2 separate regions of the Homo sapiens genome follow, and region 2 is linked to region 1. A link means that fine-mapping ties the variant in region 1 to the expression of a gene that starts in the linked region. Tissue or cell type: iPS cells. Region 1 holds a variant in brackets; the other region holds the start of a gene. All regions are shown on one strand. Distances are from middle to middle.

What was found. PIP is the estimated chance that this variant, and not a neighbour inherited with it, causes the effect.
Region 2: it holds the start of TMEM163, and the variant in region 1 is fine-mapped to the expression of TMEM163 in iPS cells (HipSci, PIP 0.95).

What each region holds. Positions count from the first base shown.
Region 1 is chr2:134,521,612-134,529,876 of GRCh38, reverse strand. The region is part of intron 4 of TMEM163 (transmembrane protein 163); the gene reads left to right. Among named protein-coding and RNA genes, the nearest start is that of TMEM163, 190 kb to the left of the region's middle. The variant C/A (reference allele first, on the strand shown) is at 4,316.
Region 2 is chr2:134,715,868-134,723,867 of GRCh38, reverse strand. It overlaps TMEM163 (transmembrane protein 163), which reads left to right and starts at 4,868. Exons shown (of 8, transcript NM_030923.5): 1 at 4,868-5,134. The coding sequence starts at 4,933. LOC105373629 (a long non-coding RNA gene) reads right to left here and starts at 5,756. Exons shown (of 2, transcript XR_923354.4): 1 at 5,301-5,756; 2 at 1,344-1,466. RefSeq lists an enhancer at 1,643-2,842 and a silencer at 4,545-4,784.

The sequences.
Region 1 (8,265 bases):
TTTTCATGGTTTTTGAAAACCAATTGTAAAAATACATATAGTCTAAATAACATTTCATGATTTTAAAATTAGTATGTACTCATTATTTAAAAACTGGACAATTTTTTTTTTTGAGGTAGGGTCTTGCTGTGTCGCCTAGGCTAGAGTACAATAGTGTGATCGCCGGGGAGATCTTGGCTCACTGCAGCCTCTGCCTCCTGGGTTCAAGTGATTCTCTTGCCTCAGCCTCCCAAGTAGCTGGGACTACAGGTGTGTACCACCATGCCCGGCCAATTTTTGTACTTTTTTTTGTAGAGATAGGGGTTTCTCCATGTTGGCCAGGCTGGCCTTGAACTCCTGACCTCAGATCATTCCACCTGCCTTGACCCCCCAAAGTGCTGAATTACAGATGTGAGCCACCATGCCTGACCAAAAACTGGACAATTTAATGTATGAAGAGTCACCCCTCATCCTACCACCCAGAGAATGGTTAGCTTTTGGAGATTTTTTTCTTTCCATTTCTTTTATGCATGTGCGCAGGTTTATATACATTTTGTTTTTGTTTTTGAGACAGAGCGAGACTCTGTCACCCAGGCTGGAGTATAGTGGCGTGATCTCAGCTCACTGCAACCTCTGCCTCATGGGCGCAAGTGATCCTCCTGTCTCAGCCTCCTGAGTAGCTGGGATTACAGACATGCACCACCAGGCGCAGCTAATTTTTTTATTTTTAGTAGAGACGGGGTTTCACCATGTTGGCCAGGCTGGTCTTGAACTCCTGGCCTCAAATAATCCACTGGCCTTGGCTTCCCAAATGCTGGGATTACAGGTGTGAGCCATAGCATCTGGCCGGGTTGGTACACATTTTTATAAAGCTGAGCTAATGGTACGTGTTCTGTTGTGCATCCTGCTTTTCCCCCCACTTTCTAAAGTGAGCATTTCTTTGTTATTGAAAATCTTGATGTACTTCCTTTTAAGTGTCAATGTTGCATCTTATTGATGCACCGTTATTAACCATTCACCTTAAATACCCAAGTATGGTTTTTCTTCTCCTATTATAACATAGCAGTGAAGGGCTTTATACAATCTTGTGTCTGATTATTTCCTTAGGAAGAATATTTCTTTAAATGCAATTTCTAATCAGAAGTGTGAGACATATTACTAAATTGTCCACTGAGATTGACACTTTGTATTCCAACCAGCACTGGCTGTTTTCATTTTTAAAAATGGACAATTGAAGAGGCAAAGTGGTATCATTACAACTTTTTTTCACTTTTCAAATGGCTTAAGAATTGACCCTAGAGATGTTACTCCAAATTGTTTGGCTGATCAAGATTTTCCAGAATGTTTGTCTAACCAGAGTTTAGTTCACCTCACCATACCCTAACTTTTCTATCTCATTCATAACAATGTTATAAGAAACTCTTATCAGATGCCTTGTTAAAATCAAAATGTATCATCTGAGGCATTCTCCTGGTTTACTAGGTTAGGGAAGCCATCTCTAAAGGAAATGGAGTTAGGCCAGTTAGATTTATTCCTGGTGAACCTAGGTGAGCTGAACAAAATGTTTTTCATTTTGGAATTGTTAGACTAAATCTGTTAAGTAAGCCATCTGATAATTGAAGTAAGCCTTTCATCGGTCTTGAATTTCTAAGATCTGCTTACAAACACCAAGACCCATTTCCCAACTTCTAGAATAGTTTCCTGTTTGCCCTGATTTTTTAAAAGGCTACTGGGAGTTTTTCCATAACAACATGGAATGATCTTTCACCATTTGGGATAATGTGATTTAGGATCTGGATGGTGTTAGAAGGACCAGGTGTTTCTTTTTCGTTCTGTCTTGTTGGACTTCTGTGTCCTCTTAATTAGTTTTATTTTCTGTTCCTTGCCCAGTTGACAGGCCAGAAGTGGTGCTATTCTGTCTTTTGTCTCATGTAAACATTGACCATTCTTCTTGGGTTGTAGTTAACCTGAGAATTTTGTTCTGAATGGCATTTGGAAATATTTTTTCCAAGACTTAGCCCATTTTGGACCTATATCTAACATACATGTTGGCGCTACTCTTTTGATTGTGTCTTTGGCTAATTATTTTCGTATGTTCCTCTTAAATATCACCTCATCAGAGGGCTTTCCATGCTGTTACAGTGATTTATTTATGGGCATCCCATCTCAATCCTGTCATTTTCCCAGCCCGTGTTTGTGGTTTCAGCCAGGACCGGAATGATTCCCAAGGCTAGGACAAGTCATTCCTATAGCCTTGCTCAGGATCCCGGGAGAGCGGGAAGTGGAGAGCCCTGTGGTGTTGGGCTCACTGTCACATACTTTTCTGGAAATTGTAAAGCCCTTAGACCTTCAATTTCCTGCCACAGCTGCTCTTCCCCTTCACTCCTCAACCCTCAGCGATAGCAGCGGGATTTGGGGATCTGGGGCTGTTTTTTTTGGCAAGTGTCTTTTGCACATGTTAAGGATTTGTTGTATTTTTTTCTGAAGGTTTTTCTTTTTCTTAAACTTCTAAAATTTCTTTATAATATACTTTCTAAGGTTTCCTCCCCTTCCTCCCTTCCTTCCTCTCTCTCTCTATAGTAAGTGTATATACACACAAGCATGCACATAAACACATATGCATGTATGTATAGATGCATACACGTATGTAAGCATGTACACTGTATAGATTTGCAGAGGGGTCAGGGCAAGTGAAAGGAGATGGAAGAGACATGATATAATCACCAAGAAGATGAGATTTTATCCTAGTTATAGCTAATAGTCATGACTGACAAATAGTCTGTTATCATGAAAAAGAAAATGAGAAATATGGGAGATTTCATTACCAGAATTAATTGATAACTCCCTAGAAAACTATTTGTGGTGAGGCATTTTTATAGGGTCTTAGTTGAGTGGTTACAGCTTAGACTAAATAATGGGAGACTTCATCTGTTTATCTGTCTTGAACAGCATATACTGAACCGTGCTGTTTTTTAGACATACTTAAGTTTTCATTATTAGGTTTTCTTAGTGAACACTTTTAGGGGGTTGGTAAAAGACAAGGCTTGGAGGATGAGCATTTACCATGTTCTTCTTAAAATATAATGGCCCAGTTAGGGCAAAAGCAGACATGGAACTTTTATGATGCTTTTCCAGTGGTTCTGTAAGAGGACCTGTCAGCCTGCACTGCATTGCCGGGCTATTTTCCCTGCTGGGTGTAAAGTAGCTTACACTCTGATTTTAGAAGTAGCTAATCTAGTTGGAGAGACTTTATTAATTACATAAAAGCTCAGTTTCACATAGTTGATTTGTCTAGCATAATTGTGGAGGAGATTTTAATTCAGCCCCTTCTTGAGAGACTTCTGATGTGGAAGCCTCATAAACTATATGCATAATGGCATATGCTTTATTGTTAAGTGTTCTTTTGGTGATAGGGTTTGTAGGTTTTTCTGTGAAACCTTCTCCGATTTATGGGGGTCTAGGGATAATTATTAGTGGTGCTGTAGGATGTGGAATTGTGTTGAATTTTGGTGGGGCTTCTGTGGGGTTAATAGTCTGAGAGACTTCTGATGTGGAACACTAGTTTACTTAAAATATTTTACTTAACCTTGGGTGGTTGTATAAGATTCTGTTGTCCTGCTAAATGTGTCCTGAAGTGTACGCTCCCTTTTCTTTTATTAAAAAGAAGGAAAAACTCCTTTTCTTCTCCCATCGATTTCCCAAGAGCAAGTGTGAAATGCGAAGGTAAAAGTGACCATGTGTTTGGACCTACTGTGTGCTGAGCAAATCTAGCTTTGCACTAGCTCTGAAAGGTCTAGTGCCCAGCACCATGGTTGGCACTAGAAGCAGCAACACCTGGGGCACACCCGAGGCCTGGCCTGAGCCAGTTCTCCAGCTGTGTTCTCTATACCCTCTGCTGAAATCCCTTCCAACAGCCTGATGAACAAATTTGTTGTGTGAATGCCCGCAGCATCCCTGCCTTCTTATTTGCAAACCGTTCTCCTTGTTGCCTTCCACCTAACTTATCTTAACCCAACTGCCCAGAAACATTCTAGAAAGCTTTTCTGGACTACTGGACACCCCCAGGTCTGGGAGACTGATGCAGGAGAGATGCCCTCAGGTCCAGCTAGGTGTCAGAGGCAGGCTTCTGAGGCTGTCTGAAGGGAATGCCCACCTTGGTCTTGGGAGTGTTAGACAGGGAAGGAGGCAGATTCTGTTTTTAGTGGGTTCTTCCCTAAACACAAACTTGGAGGTCAAAGTTCCATTGAGTGGTTCCAAACTATAGTAAACTTGTCCCCTTAGCCCAGAGGGTATTCTCAAAAGCAAAATGTCTACTTCATTAGGCGCTATCTTCACA[C/A]AACACTTATAATGTCACAACAAAGGGGGCAAGTGCCCTTCCAGTGCTCCCCAGCGATTGATTTTGTAGTTGAATTCCTGCAAAATGGGGGCTTCTTTAATCTAGAGGCGATTGTGATACCCATCTGATGGAGAACACAACAATCTAATTGCAAATGATCAGAAATTCCAAGGAAGCTAAGTCTTATCATTTAACGCGGTGCTGCTCAGACTCCAGGGGCCTCAGAATCTGCTGAGGGCTTGTTAAGGGGCATGCTGCCAGGCCCACCCCAGAGTCTCTGATCAGGAGGGATGGAGTGAAGCTGAGAATTTGCATTGCTAACAAGCTCCCAGGTGATGCAGATGTTGCAAGTCTGGGGAACCACACTTTGAGTAGCACTAATTTATCCTTTTGAAGACGGTGATTCTTATAGTTCACTACACACAGGAATCACCTGGGGAGCTTTTCAAACTCTTGCATTAAATTAAAACCACAATGAAATACCACCTGACGCCAATCAGAATGGCGATTATTAAAAAGTCAAGAAACAACAGATGTTGGCGAGGCTGTGGAGAAATAGGAACGCTATTACACTGTTGGTAGGAACGTAGATTAGTTCAACCATTGTGGAAGGCAATGTGGTGATTCCTCAAAGACCTAGAACCAGAAATACCATTTGACACAGCAATCCCATTACTGGGTATATACCCAAAGAAATAGAAATCATTCTATTATAAACATACATGCATGTATATGTTCATTGCAGCACTATTCACAATAGCAAAGACATGGAATCAACCCAAATGCCCATCAATGATAGACTGGATAAAGAAAATGTGGTACATATATACCATGGAATACTACGCAGCCATAAAAAGGAATGAGATCATGTCCTTTGCAGGGACATGGATGGAACTGGAAGCCATCATCCTCAGCAAACTGACATAGGAACAAAGCCGAACACCACATGTTCTCATAAGTGGGAGCTGAACAGTGAGAACACATGGACACAGGGAGGGGAAGAACACACACTGGGGCCTATGGGTAGGGGGTGAAAGGGGGAGGGCATCAGGATAAATAGCAAATGCATGTGGGGCTTAATACCTAGGTGATGTGTTGATGGGTGCAGCAAACCACCATGGCACATGTTACCTATGTAACAAACTTGCACGTCCTGCGCATGTATCCCAGAACTTAAAATTTTAAAAACCCAAGCTCTCAATTACAGCATTAAATGTTATCGATATTAAAAAACAAAAACTCTTGCATTTCCCCTAGGCTGCTTCCCAGACCAATTACACCTCTATGGCTGAGTGTGGGACCCAAGTGTTAAGCCACCTGGGTAATTCTCGTGTGTAACCAACTTTGACAACCATCGTCCTAAGACTGCAGCTCATTTTAATGCAATTACAAATCAATCTGGGCTATTCAAATGCAGGCTGTAGTTCAGGAAGTCTGGGGAAGGTCCTGAGATTCTGAGATCCTGGGTTATGTCGCTGCTGCTGGTCCAAGAACCACACTTGGGGTTGCAAGGCTCTAAAATATTGGAGTAGAACAGGGTTTCTCAGTCTCAGCTCTGTGGACACTTTGGGCTGGATAATTATTTGTTGTGTATTGTAGAATGTTTAAAAGCATCCCTGGTCTCTACCCACTAGATGCTGTCAACACTCCACCCACTTGGTTTTGACAACCAAAAATGTCTACAGAAAGTGCCAAGTATCCCCTGTGGGAGGGAGTTGGGGGAGAAGTGAGGTGGAGTGGGGGTAAAAATCTCCTCAGGTGAGAACCACTGGAGTAGTGTTACTTACTAAGGCTGGGTTTCAGGACCCCTCCCCACTTCCCGTTTCTCTGTTTAATGGAAACTTTATTTCTTTGACTAGGAGAAAAACCACTTGTCTACCTCTAGACTGATCCTAAATGCCTGGAAGAGGCCTCACCACGATCAGAGTAATTCCTACCAAGATGAATTAGATATCAGCTCCTTTGCTGAGAAACGTGGTGTAATGGTGGCAGGGAGCAGCTGAGGGGAGATTGGGGGAGAGACAGGAGTGCTTTTCTAGGTTTTCTCAGTAATGGATTTTGAAAGACATCAGTAATAGCTTTTTAAGCATTTTTTCTAAATGAAATTTGGCTTATCCTCATTTCCAATCATCTCTGAGTTTTAAAAGCAACAAAACAACTGAGTACCGCACCTCAGCTCTTTCCTGTTACATGAAGTTTTTGGCATGTGACCTTTTAACAAGCTCATGAATAATTCCCTTAATTGACTGGCTGGTGATGTTTTTATTCTGTGGTGTTGTCGCAGTTCAGTAATAGCACACAGACGCTCCGACCCCCACCTGCAGACCCACTCCCAGGCTATTAAATCAGTGAAGGTTGCAAATTGCATGTCTCTCTCACTGTTTTGAACTGGAAGCCCTTTTTACACAAAGCATGTTCATGGTTAATAAAATTACTGTGTACACACGTTTCAGTCTTATCTGTAAGACCGTAATTCTCTAATTTGGTTGAACCACCTCTGGCATTAATGGAGCAGATTGAATGTGGAGTCGTGATTACCAGCACCTCATTATATAAGTGCTGTATGAGGCGGTGTGGTTCTATCCCATCTGTCAGAAAGCCAGCAGGCTGGTAATTAGGAGGGGAATAGGCATCACAACGTCTGCTCAAAGCCACACGGCATTTTTCTTTCAACATGCAAGGGATTCGATCTTTTTCCCCCCGCCCCTTGTTTAAAATCAGCATGTGACTTTAATTCAAGATCATTGGGCAGACAAATGAGAGAAAAATGGGGTACTTGTAACAGTAGGGAAAATTGGGATGAGCCTTAGATATGCCAGTGGAGTAATCATGGCAGGAATAATAAATGACTTTTCTCTTTACTGTTCCCACAGTCATTCGCCCTGTGTGGCTGGCTACCTGTCCTTACAAGGCTGCTTCTGTTGTGGGCAAAATGCCACAGTTGGTGAAGCCACTATGGGATCTGTGGCCTCTAACACAAGCACTGTGGGTTATTTACAAATGTGCCCTCCTAATTTCTGGTTGTGGGACTTTTGGGAGCAAATTATCCAGTCCATGAATCCACAGGCCTTAAAGTGCTAGCACTTCGGATGCTGTCAGTGCCAAGATGGCTTAGTTTCTGGGACTAACCTGCTTAGTTCACCTTTTAGGTGCTCTCTTAGCAGCTGGCTTCTCTCAAATAAAGTGAAGCAAATTCAAACGCATTCCTTCTCTGTGATGAATTCAGCCAGTGTGTTTTATGCTGCTTTCTTTCCTCTTGAGGGAAATCAGATAGTGGGCAGTGCCAGTCTCTCCCTCTTGTGGAAAACAAGCCCCTAGTTGGCCTGGCAGTAATTGTGCCTGGGCAGACAAAGGCTGTCACAGTGACTGTCCTGTTCTTAGACTTCTGGGTGCTCTAGAGCCATCAGTGGAGCTTATAAAGACTCCTGAGTCTAAGCCCACCCCCGCTAGAAATTCTCCACGGATCTAGGATGGGGCAGTATAACAGGTGCCTCAGGGCATGCTTCGGAGAAACGGACAGAAGGAGATGAGAAACAGGATGGTGAGTGTCCGGAGTGGAAGCTTTGAGCCTTATGGGCAGACAAGTCCACATCTCAGCTTGGCAACCTTACATGTTTCTCATACCCTTTGAACTTGGTCTTCCTCGACTGCTTAAATATCTGTCTTCTCAGACAGGTATGAGGAGTGGTGGGAGATAGTGTAGGCAGAGTGTCTCCCCAGTGCCTGCCTCCTAGGAGGGGTTATGCAGGTGCAGCTCTGCATCTGATATGTCCCCGATCCTGGGATTATAGGATGCTCTTCAGCGAAGTTGATGTTCACCTTGTGTGCACAGAGGCTGTGGTGGCCTTTCTGTGAGTTCACCATTGCTCCTTCACAAGCCTTCCTGTTAGCTGGCAGTCCACATGTTACCCAATTTGGTTCTGTTGGCTTTGTGGGTTGGCCCCAGTTGA
Region 2 (8,000 bases), 190 kb before region 1:
TGGCTCACTGCAGCCTCTGCCTTCCAGGTTAAGCAATTCTCCTGCCTCAGCCTCCCGAGTAACTGGGATTACAGGTGTGCACCACCAGGCCTGGCTAATTTTTGTATTTTTGGTAAAGACAAGGTTTCACCATGTTGACCAGGCTGGTCTCAAACTCCTAGCCTCAGGTGATCCTTTTGCCTCGGCCTCCCAAAGTGCTGGGATTACAGGCGTGAGCCACTGTGCCTGGCCCCAACTGTTTTACATTATTCACTATTGTGATTATGAAATTAATTCATGGCTAATGCATATACACATAGTTGAAAAATCAATATAATGACCTAAATTATAATAGAGGAGGAATAAAATAAAGTAATACATAATTAATATTTAAATGCTCACTCAGAGCTACACCAGAGGTCACAAATAAGCAGTCAGATATTTGTACCTATTTATAATTTAAGAACAGAGAGTCAGGCACTCTGGAATATTTTTTACACTTTTTCTTTAAATTGCTGTTATTTTGAAACAGGAACTAAAGAAATATACACATATGAAATTACTGGGCTTGTGGGCATCATATATGTGTTGATTGCTGAAACAGATAACATGAATGGAACTGGCTTCTGTGTCCTGATTTTCCAAAGTGGTAAAAAGAGTACCATCCCTTCCTAGACTTATACAGTAGTTGCATTTCCAGAAATTCCTGTGTGTATTCACAAGATGCAAAAACATTTTGTGTTTATATGTAAAACAAAGTTAAAGTTCCACCGTAATTCGATGCACATTTCAACTGAAGCAAAGGTCAGGTCTGACAAATGAAAGCCATGTGGGACACAGACCAATCTCCTGCATCTGGGGCCACCCCCAACTAAATGTCAGTGGCCCCCTCCTCCCATCATTGTGATGACCAATGAAAGTACCTGCAAATTTCCAAAATGCCCCCTAGCGGGCAGTACCCCTGTGGATTATGGTGGTGGGCAGAGGTCGACAAGGCAGATCGGCCTTTGTTTGTTCATCTGTGAAATGAGGACAGTAGTAGCTGAATGAGGGAGACAATGCATGTAAAACACTTAGCTAGGTACCCGGCACATGGTATGTCCTCCAAAAATGTAAGCTAGTGTTATCTTCCAGTTAATCAGCAGAGATTGTTTGAGGGGACACTGTGTCCCCGATGCCCAGGTAGGTGTTTGTAAGGAATGCACATCAGGCAAGCACCACTATCCCTGCTCCACACATGAAATAAATGGTGAATTATTAATCAATTACAGTTTAGAAAAAGGAGCACCCAAAGGGGAGCTGGAGTCAGAGAAATCTTTCTGGAAAAGACAATAGTGGCTTGTTTAACCAGAGCAGCTGGAACATGATGGGAAATATATTTATTCCATGAATAACAAACAACTCCTAGATCCTTGCTTCTCAAAGTGTGGTCTTCAGATATGCAGCATCAGCAGCATCGGGAGGTTTGTTAGAAACAGCATCTCAGCCTGGTGGAAAACAAACAAAAAAAAGAAACTTTTAATCTGAGGAATGCAAGCCCCTTTACATTATCAGCCCCAGAGACTTACTGGAATGAAACAGCAGCAAGTGACAACCATTTGAGTGAAATAATGATCTCTAGAAGCCACTGACTATGTGGGCTCTAGACTAATTTATGCCAAATAGCCATAAAATGGCCATACACTGGACACCATAACTCCTACCCGACAGTTCAACAATCTATAGCCAAGTTATCTCTGCAAACCAATGAGGATTCCTGTCACACAACTTTATATCGGCCCTCTCTTTGTTCCCTTTGCCTTTAAAAACCTGCTTATAACAAAGGCTAATGGAGCACTCCTCAAGGCAACTTAGAAACGTCCTGGGTAGCTGTCCTCATTTGGGCTCAAGCAAATTCTTTCAATTATATTTTGTGCCTCAGCCTCTTCCTTTTAGGTTGACAGCCTCTATCCCAGACCAACTAAATTAGAATCAGCATTTTAAGAAGAATTGCGGATGTTCATTGCCACGCTCACCTTTGAGATGTGCTGGACTTACAGAACCAACTGAGGAACCAGAGGAAAGAATAATGATACCAGTTCCTTTGGTGAGAATCTGCTGCAGACCGTGTGTGTGTGTATGTGAAGGGCACAGAGCTAGATGGTCCATATTGTGGAGAGTAATCATAAAGGGTGGTTGCAGAATAATTGACATCAGAATGTGTGTTGGAGGCCGGGGGGCAAGAGGGGTTTAAAGGAAGGTTCCCAGCCAGATCCCAGATCTATTGAACCAGAATCTCAGAGAGCCAGGGAGGAATAATTTTTTTTTTTTGAGATGGAGTCTCGCTCTGTCGCCCAGGCTGGAGTGCAGTGGCATGATCTCAGCTCACTGCAAGCTCCGCCTCCTGGGTTCATGCCATTCTCCTGCCTCAGCCTCCTGAGTAGCCGGGACTACAGGCACCTGCCACCACGCCCGGCTAATTTTCTGTATTTTTAGTAGAGACGGGGTTTCACCATGTTAGCCAGGATGGTCTCGATCTCCTGACCTTGTGATCTGCCCACCTTGGCCTCCCAAAGTGCTGGGATTACAAGCGTGAGCCACCACGCCCAGCCAATTTTTTTTAAGCCCCCAGATGACTCTTAGAATGGGGAAGTGCCTTACAAAATACCCATGCCAAGGTCCCAGCCAAGAACGATCACGTTAAATATGATATCAGAATCTCTAGCAGTCGAAGCTTCGGTATTTTTGTTCTTAGACTCCCCAGGTGATACTTTGAGAGCCATTGACAGGGGGATTAAATGGGATAGACTGGAGGAAAAAAGTGGAGGAGATGACTCTGCAAATATATCTGAAGGATGTTCTACCTTAGAGGATAGAACCAGGATTAATGGGTAGAGATTTTCATTGTCTTTATCCAAGTAATCATAGCATTTTTCTTTTTCTTTGCAGCAGGAAGGGATCTTTGAAATGACGTAGTTCAACTCTTTCAATTTGTAGTTGAAGAAATTAGTGGTCAACAAGGTAAAGTAAGTTGGTCAAGGTCAACTCAGATCTTCTCATTCCAATCCAGCAACAACAATAATAACAGCAGCAACAAAATAAAGTAAGACCCCTCTCCCCATTTCTGGTGATATTTCCAGTGCACCACAAAGGCATTTAAATCCTACTCTCATTTCAATCACAAGCAAAGCAGACAAGAAAAAGGAAAAGGGTGACTCTTCAAGAAACGAGGAGGACTCCTTTAAATGAGGAATTGACATTTTGGAGTACCCGGATTAAATTCAGAGACTGAATCAATCTAAAGACGAAAGCCGGACTCTAGAGCTTGGATGTTGATACCATTGAAACGGTAGGGGCAGAAAAGGTGTGATACTTTCCTCCCCATCATAAGGGGCACGGCAAACATGCTTATAACAAAAGATAGGCTAATAAGAGAAAAGCGTAACAAATTTATTGAATCAAAGTTTTATGTGATACAGGAGCCTTCAGAAATGAAGATGCAAAGACTCAGGGAAAACTGCCTGTTTTTATGCTTAGATTCAGTGAAGAATGGACAGCCTTATAGAAATGTGATTGGACAAAGGGTGTGATCTAATGGTAATAGACTGAGGGTTGAACCCAGCGAGGCCTGTTCAGATTCTTCTTGGCCTCTCTGTGCAGCATGTATAGAGCAGGACCTCTTCTGGAATGAGGGTCTCAGGATCTACTATCAGACAAGGTAGGTCTGAGTATTTCTTCATGGCCAGCTCCTACACAGAAAGGCAGAGGACCAGGGAGGTTGGAGTACTATTTCTAGGTTGTATGACCACCGTAGGGAAGAGGAATTCTGGTTTCTGTGAACTGCTTAGTGGGGAGAAAGTCGGGGGGGAGACAGACTTTGTTTCTAAGGCGGCTTCAGAGGCCTGTTTAGTTTTTTAGTTCAAACTTAGCATACCAAAGTGCCATACGTTGGGGTATACTTTTCTGAGCCTCAACAAATCCAAGCTGAATTTATTAAACAGCAGGTCCTCTTTTGCTCCTCTCTGGGCATCAAGAGAGCTGGCGTGTGCCCTGCGGTGGACTCTCACTGGTGAGATCAGCCCCACCGCACAAAATGAATTAAGAGCTGCAGGGGTCAGAGTAGGGGAGACTTCTCGTAGAAGGGAGGCTTCCATGGATTTCTGAAGATCACACAAGACTTAGATGAGCAGGGGAGCGAACTGTATGGGACAAAGGCCCAGGAAGAGTCGAAATGGGGAAGCCTCGGAGTTCAAGCATCTTCTATAGCGCCCGCTGTCCTAAAGATACCCCATCCCTGGCTAAATGGGTGCTCCAGGGAGAAACTGGGAGGGGAGTTAAAGCTCCGAGAAGGACGGAGAGCGACGGGCTTGGGGACAGATGAACCCTTTTTCCCTGGATGAGCAGTGAGAATGGAGGCCCAGGCGAAGACCCTGTACAGCCTCTGAAGCCTGTGCAGCTCCAGAAGAGAAAGATGCCAAATTAGGGGCGCTGTCTGCTACCCACGCGCGGCCGCGGGCTTCGCGGACCCCAGAGGAATCCAGTGGGAGGGGTCCCCTCTGGGCACCATCCCGCGGCGCAGGTGGGGCGGGTCCCCGCTACGCCCTAGCCAAGCTCTGCCAGGGCCGCCTGTGGGTCCTCACGCTGGTTCCTCCCTCTCGTCCGCCTCGGTGCGCCGGCTCCCGCGCCCGGGCCTTGGGGCGGGTCCCTGCCGCCCGCACCTGCCCCCAGGGGCGGAGCGCGGCGGCAACAACGCGGCCCCAGCCTCCGCCACCGGCCGCGGAGCCGAGCGGCTCTCCGCTCGTCCCCGCCCCCGCCCGTGCACCTCCACTCCGCGGCGCCCGCCCGCCCTCCCTCCCTGTCCACGCGGCCAGTCCGTCCGCTCCTGCCCCCGCCAGAGCCGCGGCGCCTCGCACTTCTGACTCGAGTCCCCGCCGCGCTTGTCGTCGCCGCCGCCGGGATCCGCAGCCCCGCGCCATGGAGCCGGCCGCGGGCATCCAGCGCCGCAGCTCCCAGGGGCCCACCGTCCCGCCGCCGCCCCGGGGCCACGCGCCACCGGCTGCCGCCCCCGGCCCGGCCCCGCTGAGCTCCCCGGTGCGCGAGCCGCCCCAGCTGGAGGAGGAGCGGCAGGTGCGGATCAGCGAGAGCGGCCAGTTCAGCGACGGGCTGGAGGACCGAGGTGAGCGCGAGCTGCCCGACCCGGCCGGCGACCGGGGTGGCTGCTCGGGGCCCGCCTCTCCCCACTCGCGGGCCGCGCTGGGCGAGGCGCGGGGCTCGGAGCGCGCGGGGGCGCGGAGCCCCGACTTCCCGGCGAGAACGCCGCTAGCCGAGAGCGGCAGCCCCACCTTCTGCGGCCGGCACCGCCTCGGCTGCGGTTCCTTCCCTCGAAGCCCAGACCCCAGCTGCCTTCAGGCCGACCCCGCCTGGACTCGCGCCCTCCTCTCCGCCAGCTCCAGGCCCTCCGGCGCCCACGGGAAAAGTTTGCGGGAGGCATTTTTTGCGTTCGGAGTCGAGCGCTTCTGGGCCACTCCGGGCCCTACTCAGCTCGGAGGGACCCAGGCTCGTTGCATCCTCCTTTCCGTAGTCCCCTGCGGCTCCGCCGGCTGCCTGGGAGAACTTCCCTCTGCGGGTGTAGCCGCGAGATGTCCCTCGGCGGCCGCCCGGCTGCCCGCCCCGGCGAAGGGCGCAAGGAGGGGAGCGAGCCGGGACTCGGGCGGCCTCTGGTCTCGGGCAGTCCCCGATTCTAATCGCGGACGCGGGTCACAGTGGGTCCCTGCCCCGTCGTCTCATGATGGGGCAGAGGAATGGGACATTTGGATTTGGGCCACCAACCTCATCTGGATGGATGCCACTGAAACCTGATGTTTCCGGAGGGCGCGTCTGCAGACCCTTCAGAGCTCCCCTCCACTGACACTGGCCTGGAGGTCAGCACACTTGCCTCTGCTGGGAGACCACACTCTGCCTCCCACCGACTGCCGATGCCCCCTTGAGTCGCCAGTGTAGGACGGGAGAGACTCCCTGCTCGTTCCCGCGTCTCTCTTCTCCATCCCTTCCGCGTTTCCTTTGGGCTTGGATTCTTTGCAGAGGGAGCCCTGTTCTTGGCCGCGTCTGCACCTTTTCTACTTCTTGCTGAATCCGAATCCAAATTGTCCCCCTCAGAACGAATCTGTGGTTCTGCTAAAACCGTTTAGTGGCCAAAGAGGGATTCTTGCAGCCAGGCCCTTTAGGGGAAGCCGGCTCTTTTGCACCTCCACCCCCTTTTCTTGGAAGCCTTATTTTGTTGGCTATGGCGGGTTTATATATTTTAGACTTAGCAGGTTTCTGTCCTATTCTTAGTATCTCCTGTACATTTTTATTCCGGTTTAGTGTTCGGATGCACGATCTCTTTCTCCTTAGAAATTCTAAACTGTAGCATGTGAAATAAAATGACATGGAAACGGCAGTTCCCAGAGAATCCGCCTAGATGCTCAGCGAGAACTGGAGCTGCTCCAGTGGCAACGAATTCTGCACCTCTGTTGCAGTTTCTCCCCCTGTTCTCACATAACTAGATGCCATTTAAGAGGTGAGGACAGGGGACATCACGAGCATGGAACAAAACCTCTCACTTTTATTATAGGATGTGTTCATTACCTTTGCCCCTCTCCAGCTAATATCGTAGGATTTAAAAATTCCATATTGAAGAAAGACAGAAGCCTGGGTTGAGCTTATTTTTGTAGCATTGCAGGTCATCTCTAAGAGCTGGCCTGTTTCTCCCTACCCCACAAAATGATAGGAGGGAAGACAGTGCTAGGGTGAGTTCATATTTAGCATCATTTTGTAGTTCATGTTCAAGTGTAAAAAGCCCTTCTGAATTCATTCTTAAGGTTATTTTTCTCTGGTCAACGGAATTTCATTTTCCATTATATGATAGCATGAAAGCATTGACTGTTCGTAAACTGTCACTGTTTGAGAGCGTGGCATATCACACACAGCCTCTCTGTTAGGATGAACCCTATTCGCCAAAGAACCCGGTGCTGTGTGGCATTGAGAGCTGAACGTCAATGTGACATTCTTTTGTTTGACCTCTTCCTGATGGCAACCAGTATGTGGTGAATAAGTGATTTTTGTTAAGTAAACGAGAACGTTACCTGGGGAGGTTTACTGTAAGATTTTGTGTTTGTTGTTTCTGTTATTTTTTTTCTTATGGGGCTGCATTTTTCCAATATTGATTTTTATATCCTTTGGGAATGGGTTGAGTGCAGCTACCTCTTTCCTGCTGGTGAGAGGAATTGGGGAGGAGGAAGCCCCAGCACTTGCCTGCCGTGTGTCTCTGCATCCTGCCTGGCTTGCTTTCTTTCAGGCCTAAATACCTATAGGCTGTCTGTAGAGGGGTTGAGGGGTACCTCGGATCTGCACCTGTATTTGGCATTCTCTTTTGTCCTAACTCCCTTTGGAGCTATCAGGATGTGGTTCCAGACCACAGTTAACTCTCATCAAAGGTTTGCTTTAAAATCTAGTGTTTTGAGACTTTGGAGGCATTTGCGCCTTAGAAATGATGTGGGCTGGTTCTCAGAAACCTAGCTAGCTCAGAATGTCAGTAACTGCAGTGCCATCTGGTTGAACTTAAAGCTCAGGGAGCAAGAGCTCTGTGGCCTAAGACCTTTGGGGACTAAACACAAAAATTAGGCCAGGTTTATCTTAATCATTCTTCCCATCCCCTTTGAATACCTATTCTTCTCCCTACAAGTATTTTCCCATCATTCTGTCCGTAACCTTAGGGCCCAGCTTAGCCTTAGGTAATTATATGTGTCAGCATTTCCCAGTACTTCCCCATCTAACAAAATTTCCCTTTCTTCACAGAGTTCAAGCTTGACAAACTTAGGAGAAAGGAATTGGAACTAATGCATACTAGTGTAGAAATAACTGATGGCTTCAGCCTCTCCATATGTATTTGTACCTTTCCCCTCTCCAAAATAAATAAAGGATCAGTCTCTCATTAGTACTATGCTTAGTATTCCCAGGCCAAAATTGCAAATTATGAAATTTGAGTGAGTTTAGAAATTCAA